Linked DNA regions of Homo sapiens. The protein of the gene in region 1 binds, or shares a complex with, the protein of each later gene. Each region holds a gene or a part of one and is shown on either strand. Other genes may lie near its edges.

Region 1 (5,254 bases):
CAGTCTGGGGGACTGAGTGAGATCCTGTCTCTAAAACCAAAACAAATTTGAGGACAGGTGCGGTAGCTCATGCTTGTAATCCCAACACTTTGGCAGGCCGAGGCGGGCAGATCACTTGAGGTCAGGAGTTCAAGACCAGCCTGGCCAACATGGTGAAACCCCGTATCTACGAAAAATAAAAAAATTAGCCAGGCGTGGTGGTACATGCCCGTAGTCCCAGCTACTTGAGAGGCTGAGGCAGGAGAATGGCTCGAACCTAGGAGGTAGAGGTTGCAGTGAGCCAAGATCGGGCCATTGCACTACAGCTTGGGTGACAGAGCAAGACTCCGTCTCAAAAAAAAAAAAAATTGAAAATACCGTAAGTAGAAATGCATCAGGTTATAACCCAATAAGCCCATCATGAAGTTGAAAAATTGTAAATTGAACCATTGTAATTCAGATGCTTCTTGATTTAAGATGGGATTATGTCCTGATAAACCCATCATAAAGCCAAAACATCTTAAATTAAACCATCCTAAGTCAGGGACAGTCTGTAGGTAGTCCAGAATTGAAGTGAATTAGTGGATACCCAGCTGGCATCTACTGTAGAATTGACTGCTTACCTGATGTGTGTGGTAAGACCCCACCCATCTGGTATCAGAATTGTGTTGTGAGAGTGTGGCAGGAGAAACTGAGTCTGTTTATTCCTGTATACACACAGGGCTTCGTGCTGTGTCACTCCATCGCTGGGGGTACGGGTTCTGGCCTGGGCTCCTACCTCCTGGAGCGACTGAATGACAGGCAAGCCTGTGTTTGGGGAGAGGGCATTAACCCTGGTTCCCTGAGTAATGTCATTGCTTTTTTCTCTTGAGCTAGAAAGTCTGCCACTACCCCTTTTGAGTCATAGGGACAGACCCACCCAAGGACCATGTTGGAAGCTATTTTGGGGGGTGGGGGTTTACCTGTGGAGGGGAGGGGATCTACAGAGTTTGAAGCTTTCAGGCTTATCCTTTTTGGCTCTGAAGACTCAGTTCTGCCCTCACCCCTTTTGTACAAAATGGCACATATGGGCAGTGATGGAGGGGTCCTTCCGGTTCACTATGCCACCATCCTCTTTTCTCTCAGGTACCCCAAGAAGCTAGTGCAGACTTATTCAGTGTTTCCCTACCAGGACGAGATGAGCGACGTAGTGGTTCAGCCCTACAATTCACTCCTGACACTCAAGAGGCTGACGCAGAACGCAGATTGTGTGGTGAGCAAAGAAAGAGTTGAGGGGCTGGGTGTGGTGGCTCATGCCTGTAGTTCTAGCACTTTGGGAGGCCTAGGCAGATGGATTGCTTGAGCTCAGGAGTTCAATACTAGCCTGGGCAACATGTGAAACCCTATCTCCACAGAAAATACAAAAATTAGAGCTGGGTGCGGTGGTTCACACCTGTAATCCCAGCACTTTGGGAGGCTGAGACGGGCGGATCACCTATGGTTGGGAGTTCGAGACCAGCCTGACCAACATGAAGAAACCCCATCTCTACTAAAAAAACAAAATTAGCCAGGCGTGGTGGCGCATGCCTGTAGTCCCAGCTACTCGGGAGGCTGAGGCAGGAGAGTTGCTTGAACCTGGGAGGTGGAGGTTGCAAGGAGCTGAGATTGCAGCATTGCACTCCAGCCTGGGTGACAGAGCGAGACTCTGTCTCAAAAAAAAAAAAAAATTAGCCAGTCCTGGTAGCATGTGCCTGTAGTCCCAGCTACTTGGAGGCTGAGGCAGGAGAATCACTTGAACCCGGGAGGCAAAGGTTGCGGTGAGTCAAGATCACACCATTGCACTCCAGCCTGGGTGACAGAGCGAGACTCTGCCTCAAAAAATAACATAAAAAAAAATTAGCCGGGCATGGTGGCATGTGCCTGTAGTACTAGCTACATGGGAGGCTGAGGTGGGGGGATTGCTTGAGCTCAGGAAGTCGAGGCTGCAGTGAGCCATGATCACACCACTGCACTCCAGCTTGGGCAACGGAACAAGACCTTGTGTTTAAAAAAAAAAAAAAAAGGGTAGAGGACTTTGGTCTGTCTCCTCAGGCCAGTGAGTCTCATTCACCCCACCTTTCCTCAGCCCCTATACACACAGACAGAAGACCAACAAAGCCATACCTGTGGGCCAAATTAGGAAATAAGGTCCTGACTTCTAAGTTTCTTAGAATCCTTTTAGGCAGCAAAACTCTCAACAAAGTGAATATACCTTCCCCACACCACCACGTATCCCACCTTTGCCTACTTAATGCCCACTCATGCTTGTATTCTTAGCTCAAGGATAACTTTCTTAGCAAAACCCTTCCTGACTACTCAGTCAAGATCAGATTCCTATATGTGTATTTTAGGGAGTTAACTATAATTTTCTGTTTTATATTTAGTGTGCCTCCCTCCACGAGACTATAGGCCTAATGAAGGGAAAGACGGTGCCTGTTCCTCTCTGTGGTCTTCCCAGAGCCAGGCACAGTGTATGGCACATGTGGGTACTCACGTGTTTGTTTACTGCCCTGCGTAGTCCGAGAGTATCTCATGGTGCCCCAGAAACAGTACTTTTCTTTCTTTTTATTTTTTATTTATATTTATATATATATATATATATTATATATATTTATACTTTTTTATTTATATTTTTTACAGAGATGGCATCTTGCTGTGTTGCTCAGGCTGGTGTCCAACTCCTGGCCTCGAGTGGTCCTCCCACCTTGGCCTTGGGATTACAGGCCTGAGCCACCATGCCCAGCAGTACTTTTATTTTATTTTATTTATTTTATTTTATTATTTTATTTTATTTTTGAGACGGAGTCTTGCTCTGTCCCCCAGGCTGGAGTGCAGTGGCATGATCTTGGCTAACTGCAAACTCCGCCTCCCGGGTTCATGCCATTCTCCTGCCTCAGCCTCCGAATTAGCTGGGACTACAGGCGCCCGCCAACATGCCTGGCTAATTTTTTGTATTTTTAGTAGAGACGGGGTTTCACCGTGTTAGCCAAGATGGTCTCGATCTCCTGACCTTGTGATCCGCCCGTCTCGGCCTCCCAAAGTGCTGGGATTACAGACATGAGCCACCGCGCCCGGCCTCAGTACTTTTTTTTTTTAAACTAACAAACCTACTTCCTGGCTTTGGAGTTCAGCAGGGGCTAAGCCAATATCTTATTTCTATGCCCATTTTATCCTCAAGATGCTGTGATGCTCTTCTGTCCCCCCAGGTGGTGCTGGACAACACAGCCCTGAACCGGATTGCCACAGACCGCCTGCACATCCAGAACCCGTCCTTCTCCCAGATCAACCAGCTGGTGGGCCCCCACTCCCGGACTCCTTTGGACTGGAAGCCCTCCTTGCTGGAGGGTCATCTGGGGAAGGAAGGTCCCACCCAGGCCGAGCCCCATGACATGGCACGCCTGTCCCCAGGTGTCCACCATCATGTCGGCCAGCACCACCACCCTGCGCTACCCCGGCTACATGAACAATGACCTCATCGGCCTCATCGCCTCGCTCATTCCCACCCCACGGCTCCACTTCCTCATGACCGGCTACACCCCGCTCACTACAGACCAGTCAGTAAGAGCAGCCTTCAGTGTCCCAGGCCAGGCTGGCCCTGGGCCCAGCAGGCCCTGCCCCAGCCTTTCTCTCTTCCCCACTGCCCCAGGAGCTGCCCTTTGCAGGCCCCAAGGCACTGCGCTCAGGGACTGGCACAGAGCGGGCGACTTTCTTGCTGACTTTCTCTCCACCCTCCCTCTGCCTTTGGCTTCTGCCAAAGAGAAGCCAAAGGGACTGTGCCCTGAGCGCTGGCCGGGTCCCTGTCTCACTGTCCCATCAGGTGGCCAGCGTGAGGAAGACCACGGTCCTGGATGTCATGAGGCGGCTGCTGCAGCCCAAGAACGTGATGGTGTCCACAGGCCGAGACCGCCAGACCAACCACTGCTACATCGCCATCCTCAACATCATCCAGGGAGAGGTGGACCCCACCCAGGTAGGGGAGGCCCCTTCATCCCGCGCCCTGGACCTGCAGGGGTAGAGGAGAGGCCACCTCCACTGCTCCTATGCCCACCCCAGGTCCACAAGAGCCTGCAGAGGATCCGGGAACGGAAGTTGGCCAACTTCATCCCGTGGGGCCCCGCCAGCATCCAGGTGGCCCTGTCGAGGAAGTCTCCCTACCTGCCCTCGGCCCACCGGGTCAGCGGGCTCATGATGGCCAACCACACCAGCATCTCCTCGGTGAGTCTAGGTTTCTATTCTTCTTAGAAGAGTCTGTTCCACTGGCCACCTTCATCATCTTCCCCAAGTTCACTCCTAACCCCCTGGCTCGCATTTTGGAGATTTTCATCTCTTTCAGCTCTTTGAAAGTTCCTGCCAGCAGTTTGACAAGCTGCGGAAGCGGGATGCCTTCCTCGAGCAGTTCCGTAAGGAGGACATGTTCAAGGACAACTTTGATGAGATGGACAGGTCTAGGGAGGTTGTTCAGGAGCTCATTGATGAGTACCATGCGGCCACCCAGCCAGACTACATTTCCTGGGGCACCCAGGAGCAGTGATTTCCCTCCCCACTACTCCTTCTCCTTCTAGATGGTAACCACAGCCTCGACCATGCCTGCTCCCTCTGACCCAGCTTCACCTCATGGACAACCCTTCTTGGTTCATCTCCAGCCCGTGAGCTGGTCCTGCTTCCTCCCTTCCATGCCCTAACTTTTAATATGCTTGTTCAGCTCTAATAAAGTAATAAAGCTTGGTTGTCAGTATAGCCAGGGCTTGATCTGTGAATACGGGGGGGTGGTGAAGGGGTCCAGTTTCTAGGCATCTGACAGTAGGGTGGCCTTCACCTCCTCCAACGTCTTATCACTTAGTCCAAATCTTAGTGTGTTCACTGTTTCCATTGGCATCCCTCACCTTGAACTAGGCTGTTTAGTATTACTAGAGTCAGCCCTTGTCTCAAGATTACAGAGCTTTACTGAGGTTTGCTGTCTCCTCAGCGCCTAAGCTTTGCCCCAGTGAGGGTCAATGTTGCCCCAACCTCTTCCACTCAGGGCAGAGGAGGTGGGGTCTACTGAAGGAGGGCACACTACATTCTGAGCAGGCCAGGAGAGCCAAGGTTCCAGATTCCCAGTGCCCAGGGCCATGAGAGTTCCAGGAACTCAATCCAGTTCAACCCAACCTGATAAGTAGAAACAGAATTCAAGAGTAGGGCTGAGCACATCCTGAGTTACTTTTCTGTGCCAGAGAAATTCGTGGGTTTGTTATCTGCCCCAAGCTTCTCTCCATTC
Region 2 (7,031 bases), on another chromosome or scaffold:
CAAAGATCATCATTTGAAAACAGGGAGAAAGTGGAAAAAGGAAAGAATAGATCATAGATTTTAAATTGTGATTCATTAATTCGTTCAGCTAATACAGACAAGGTGCTTGCAATGTGGATGGAGATGTGCTAAGTGCCACAGGAGACATAAACATGAATTAAGTCAGATGAGACATGCACAACTATGGTATTATCAATTTTTTTTTAAATTGAAAAAAAGAAAAAGAATGAAGACAACCATTTTCCAGGTCCTATCCATCCTCATATGGTTACATACTCCCAGTCTTGATTCAGATTGACTTTGAACCCAAAGTTAGAGCATGTAAAAAGATTATATAATTGTTTTCTTACTTTTCTTTCCTACTGCCCAGCTGGCGAGCTGTATATTGATCCCCATAGTCAATTAATACCAGTTGTCGAGAAAAGACATTCACTTTGTTGCCTATAAATAAATCTTCCAAGTGCAGGTTATCATATTTGGTCCGCTTTAAAAAGGTGCGATGATTCTTTACATCATGCTAGAACCAGACACAACAATATAACAAACAAACAAAAAAAGTTATGAATAAGGAAAGTTAATCTCATCATAAGGTAGAAATAATTCTTAATTCTGTCTTATCAAAGATAGGTTATATTCTGTTTCTTTTTTGTTACAAATATAAATCATAATTTTTAATAACTTCCATATTTCCTAATCCAATCTGGTAATAACATAAAAGCTTCTTATTACAAATTTAATACTCTTAAAAACCTGAATAGAAAGATTTGTTTATTACCAAATCATTTCAGCAAAGTAGTCCTTACAAAATGCTAAAGAAAGAGTCATACACCCAAATTTCTGCTTTCTTGTGTACACAAAATCCCAATACCAAAAAGATCTACTTGTTAAAATTGTGTTGCCAGTGAAAGAACACAAAGAAACAGAAGTCTCTTAGCTTGAGCCTCTTCAATTTGACTTTTTGTAGCAATAACAGCTTTCAATAATGAGGACGTATTTATGACCATAATAATCCTTATCTATAATCACTTGTTTATTTCTTATCCAAAACATGAATAATCCCATTTCAGTCTTTTTTTTTTTTTTTTTTTTTTTTTTGAGACAAGAGTCTCATGCAGTCGCCCAGGCAGGACAGGCAGGAGTGCAGTGGCGTGATCTCAGCTCACTGCCACCTCCACCTCCTGAGTTCAAGCTATTCTCCTGCCTCAGCCTCCCGAGTAGCTGGGATTACAGGCATGTGCCACCACACCCGGCTAATTTTTTGTATCTTTAGTAGAGATGGGTTTTCACCATGTTGGCCAGGCTAGTCTCGAACTCCTGACTTCAAGTAATCTGCCTGGGTCGGCCTCCCAAAGTGCTGGGATTACAGGCATGAGGCACCGCGCCCAGCCCCCACTTCAGTCTTCTAACAACAACAACAAAAAATTCCTATTTTTGACATTAAAAATAAAGGCACAAGTTAACTTCTTATATTGGAATTATAATGAATAAGTTTAAAAAGAATTTCCATATGTATATATACACACACACATACATATAAATGTGTTTTTAAAAAGCAATTATATAAAAGGCAATGGTTCCCATGTTCACCCCCTTTGCCAACATTCAAGCAAAGAAAGGCTTATTTACCATTTCAACAGATCCATCCCCTGGGTAAAATAAAAGCTCATAACGTCGAAGAAGTGAAGCATTTGGATCATACCACTCTGCAATGAAAACGAATCTTTCACTATGATTCTGCAAAGAAAGACAGAAGAATTTTAACACTAACATATAAAGAACAAGCACTCTTCTGTAAGTCACACAAAATGAAATTACCAATATGCAAGAAACAAAATTACTTCTACCTATTATATTGAATGTTTCTGCTTTTCAACAAAGTATCAGTTATCAACACACCCTCAGCAATATTTCCTTTCAATTTCTCACTAAATACCCTTAGATATCTCAAAGATGACTTATGGATTGCTTTTTACTTTACAGCCATCTAATCATCCTGAGTAAATTAACGTTTTCTGAGAACATGAGCTCCTGATTTTACTATTGTAACAATTCAGTCCTTCTGAAAGCAAGTTTACATACAGACTATCAATAAACTAATATAAGAATAAATTTCTGAGGAGAGCTCTCAATTATATGAAGTTTTGACTTCCCTAAATTTGAGAATCTAGTAGTATCAGAATATTACCATTAAAATTATAGCAAACATTTTTTTTTCCTTAGTAATTTCATATGATAGTATCTTTTTATAGAAATAGAGAATGTGTTAGTCTAGGACCTCTGAAAATGAATGTGAAGACAAGATTGAACATACAAGAATTTCATTAAGGAAAATTCCCGTAATATAAAATGATGAGGGAGCCAAGGAAGACTAGAAAAGCCGATAAAAACAATAGAAGTTTGACACAGAGTGGTGGAGAGATGCAAGGAAGGTTAAGTGGAATCATCCCACATTGCTACACCCTCTAAGAAAGGTTCTGTAAGCCCATCAGGAAGTGCTAGAGCCAGGTGACTCCCAAGGACAGGGAGGGGCCAGCTTTAGTATCCCTGCTCCTCTCAATCAGTGGCTGGGAGCAGCCTTTGGGAAGCAAGTGCTCAGCACAAAAGCAGCAGTGGATTTCAGAGAACAGCAGCTGGGACCCTTGGTCACTTAGGTTGCCTGTAGTTGGAGGTCTGTGAAGTACACTCTTAGGGCTACCACAGAGAGCAAAAAATGAAAAAAATAAGTCAAAGATGGGTCCTTTTCCCTTGACTATTGAGCAGGACTTCCCATCATATATGTTAGTAAAAATACCCTCGCCCCAAAGATCTTCATTATAATAAGCAAATAAAAGCATAGGGAAGAAGGGAATCTAGGAGTTTTATTGCTAATTCTGGATTTGCCATCTGATGCTCTGGTTAGGGAAAATTTGGGGGTTCTTTTTAAGTTAATAATTGACTTATAAATTCTAATGGTAGAAGTTGTGTGTCTAATGATGTTTATAATATATCCATAAACTATAACGTAGATGACACTTTTATTTTTAAGACACTTTTATTTTTCCCACAATCATCCAAAGACATATTTAAACCATGCTGATTACTCAAGAGAAAATAAATGTAAAATAAGAGACATACTATGACATTTGTAAAAGCCTTTCATCATATATATTTTTCATATTGATTATAACAATACAGCTTTTTTGAGTTTAGGTTTCACTGTGCATTCTAGTATTGTACTCACCTACAAATAAAAATTTAAATATTAGTAGATTATTAAAATTTTTACTATCCATAATAAAATATTTATTTAAATACATAATTGAAATGTTGCCTTCACTAAAATAAATATAAAATAGAAGAAATGACACATCTAACTAAAGCAAATGAAAAATCCACGAAACCTGGTACTTCCATTTATCCATGTAGCCTATCCACCAAACCTGCCAACCACACTCTTTAATTCTGAATTGGGCAGCAGAATTTTGCACTATACTCTATCCAGAAAAGAGTTTTAATACAAAGAAAATAAACTGAGGAACTGTTGCTTCTGGCTATGACAAAGTAGCTCACAGCAAACCAATGCTACTTCTAAGAACAACTAGAAAAGTAGGATATCAAAGATTTGGAGAGCTTTTAAGGCAGCCAGGATCTGAGGATCCAAGATCCAGAAAGACAGGAAGCCCATTGAAGTGAAACCAACATTCATTGCGTTGTCTTTACTCGTAAGACATGTGCTGAGTCTCAAGTCAAGCAGACAAGTGACTGAGAAGCCTAAGAAGCTGGTAGAGGGAGCCCACCAAGGGACAGAGAAACAGGTACAAAAGTGAGCTGAAACCTGTGCTTGTTCAGTAGAGCTTTTGGAAACGAACTCCCAAGCTAGTGCTGTTTCCTCTGTGGGAAAAGGTTTATTACTCCAAGTACAAATTATATTCAAACTTGATTTAAACTTAACTTTCTGGTTTACCTTTACAGTAAAAACTGTGTTTACTTCCTAGAGTTAAAAGATGTACCTGGAGATATAACAGTGGTACATCTGGACTTGGGATAAAACATCACAGTGAGGTTGGCCTTTCAACTACCTGCCTGACACACATGCACATACACACACCATCCAGACCAAAGCCACCCTTAAAATTTAAAGAAAATTTACTTTTCAGCTTTGTTGAGCCAAATCTAGAAAAAAGGAGGAACTTGGTTTCCTTCCTCAAATGCTATTAAAGCTATATATCATTTTGTTTTAACTCTTCACTTTATGGATAAAGAAACTGAACTCCAGATAATATAAATGACTAGCATAAGGTCACAGAGCTGGTTAATAACTGAGCCAAAACTGGAAACTACATTTCCTATGACTCAGATATTTCCATATCACTAGCCTTCCAGGGCCAACTCAAGAGAGAGAAACTAACACTTTAGTAGCACATAGATACACCTTGAGTTGTCTGTCACAGATGCTCTGATGAGAATGCCACAACCTAATGATTACACAGACAATCATTAGCTCCTTCTTCCCTGAAGATTCCAACTTCTATCAAAAGTACTTTATGAGGAACATTTAAAGATTACACTGCATCAAAAAGAGACTTTCTTAAAGAAGCCAAATCATTTTTCCTCTTTTGAACATTTTAAATATAAGTTATACATAATAAAAGAGTTGATCCCTCACACATAATCACACTTTGTTCCAGAAATCTTAAAGTCTTAAAGGAAAATGTGTATTATTATACCAGAAGTCTTGAAGTGACTTGAACTGGACAATGTGGTATTATTATACCCAGAAGCCTTAGTATCTTAAAGTCTTAAGGTCTCTGTCTATACAGAGAGAACTTTCCTAGAGCACCAGTCTTACTCGATGGTAAGTAACGTAAACAATTTTTACACTGCAACATGCATATATGTGTATATAAATATATGTTATTGAGTGGAATGTAAAATTCATATAAGTTTTATAACAAAAAATAGGTGATTTTATGGAAATATTGACCAATATTGGAATTGCAAGTGAAATTATATTTGAAGATTAAACAAGTCTTTGGAGAAATAAATCACACCACCACCTCTCTCTGCTACTGTTTAAAGGAAGGTCCAGCTTTACAGTGGATCATATGAAATTAACAATCTTTTCCATACAGATATACTTTAAAAAATCCAAACTCTCAGTTCAAGAGTAAGTTTAAGCGTATGTTACCAAGCAAAATTGTACCTTGGCCTCATTTCAATAATACTGATCAGAAAGCTATTCCATTCCTGATGATACTATGATCATCAATCAACAAATACCAACTGGGCCTGGTACTACTAGCATGCTGAGTGCAACGAGCACACCAATCTGATAAGTCTGCTGCTGCTGGTGCTACTGCTGCTATCATTTGCTGGCAGCCTACAGCAAGAGACATGGCCCTGAAATGTGTTGCTTAAAGAGAAGATCCAGGAAACTATAAAGGGGTTTTTTGGAGGGGGGGATTATGGAGGAATATTTGTGAGAGTCCAAAAGACCTGGGCAAGACTTAATGTCTCTAACTCTCATTTTCCCCATTTGAAAAATGGAAACAGTACTTTCTTCATAAGGTAGTTTTGGGGATTAAATGACTTAGTTTACATGAAGCACTTAGGATTTCTGTTGCCTATGTCTCCCAAAGCGATGATGGTGGCTTATAGGTCCACCTGTGACTTTAGAACTGCATTGTACACACTCATCTCCCTCACTGATCTTTTTCTGACATACAAGAAGAGCAACTCTGGATTTGTGATGATGCAGCCTCAGCTGCAACTAACCCTAGGTAAATAGTTTTTTAAAGGTCTTTGCAGAAAAAAATCAGTATGAAGGAAAAAGGGATTTATGATGGACAAAAAAATGACTAAAATTATATTTATAAATGAAAATAAAAACTATTGAACATATAATACTAGGTAAATTTTTTTGTAAAGGATATATCATATTAATAAATCAGAGCCAAAGTACAATTCTTACCTTTTGGGGAGTTCAAACAGTTATAGATCTGTTTTTGTCAATAAAAATTTTAGTAACAATTTTCTTTTTAAATTTTATAACACTATCTGTTGCACATTCATCATTAGTTTTATAATGGACTTAGGGTGCCCCTTAAAGCAGATATAGCTTAGATCATAATACCCAAGACTTTTCAAATACATGTAAAGCCTTCCTAAGAAGGATGGGTACAAACATGCCAAGATTGCAGACTACAGTAAATACCTAACTTTTCAGTGCCCAGACACAGATGAACATCCACAAGTATCAAGATCATCCAGGAAAATATGAACTTACCAAATAAACCAAATAAGGCACAAGGGACCAATCCTGAAGAAACAGAGATATGTGACCTTTCAGACAGAGTATTCAAAATAGCTCTGCTATAGGTTTCAAAATCAACCCTGGCTAGGGGCCTGAAGCAAACCAGTTTAGTGCTAACAACAACAAAAAAAAAATCTGATCTAATTTTTTTCACTTTACTTTCTCTCCCACATATTCCTTATTTCTCACTCTACCGCTCCAAGCTTCAACTTCCTTGTTCCTAAATATTTTATGAAAAAGTTCAAAACACTTTTTCTTCTGGATAAGTAATATTTGTGTTTTCTTAATGTCATGCTGTGGTTTGAATTTTCAAATTTCATGAAAATTTGTGTTTCCTGAAAAAAAAAAAAAAAAAAACCTCTGCTAAGGAAACCCAAGAAATTCAAGATAACACAGAGAAGAAATTCAGAATTCCATCAAATAAATTTAACAATGAGATTGAAATAATTAAAAAGAATCAAGCAGAAATTCTGGAGCTGAAAAATGCAAAAAGCGTACTGAAGAAGGCATCAGAGTCCTTTAATGGCAGAATTGATCAAGCAGAAGAATTAGTGAGATTGAAGACAGGTTATTTGAAAATACACAGAGGAGACAAAAAAAGAATAAAAAACATGAAGCACACCTATAGGATCTAGGAAATAGGCTGGAAAGGGCAAATCTAAGTTATTGGTCTTAAAGAAGAAGTAGAGAAAGAGATAGGGGTAGAAAGTTTATTCAAAGGGCTAATAACAGAGACCTT

The links. Proteins that work in one complex are often made in the same cells at the same time.
Region 2: TUBG2 (region 1) and NME7 share a complex: the UniProt entries of both Homo sapiens proteins name them as parts of the gamma-tubulin ring complex.

The regions. Positions count from the first base shown.
Region 1 is NC_000017.11:42,662,273-42,667,526, forward strand, and holds the end of TUBG2 (tubulin gamma-2 chain), read left to right. Parts: intron 1-700; coding exon 701-780; intron 781-1,104; coding exon 1,105-1,231; intron 1,232-3,203; coding exon 3,204-3,290; intron 3,291-3,405; coding exon 3,406-3,555; intron 3,556-3,814; coding exon 3,815-3,967; intron 3,968-4,050; coding exon 4,051-4,212; intron 4,213-4,330; coding exon 4,331-4,528; 3' UTR 4,529-4,734; downstream 4,735-5,254. UniProt on the Homo sapiens protein: Tubulin is the major constituent of microtubules, protein filaments consisting of alpha- and beta-tubulin heterodimers. Gamma-tubulin is a key component of the gamma-tubulin ring complex (gTuRC) which mediates microtubule nucleation.
Region 2 is NC_000001.11:169,322,767-169,329,797, forward strand, and holds part of NME7 (nucleoside diphosphate kinase homolog 7), read right to left. Parts: intron 1,735-7,031; coding exon 1,627-1,734; intron 518-1,626; coding exon 351-517; intron 1-350. UniProt on the Homo sapiens protein: Possesses an intrinsic kinase activity. Displays 3'-5' exonuclease activity with a preference for single-stranded DNA. Does not seem to have nucleoside diphosphate kinase activity.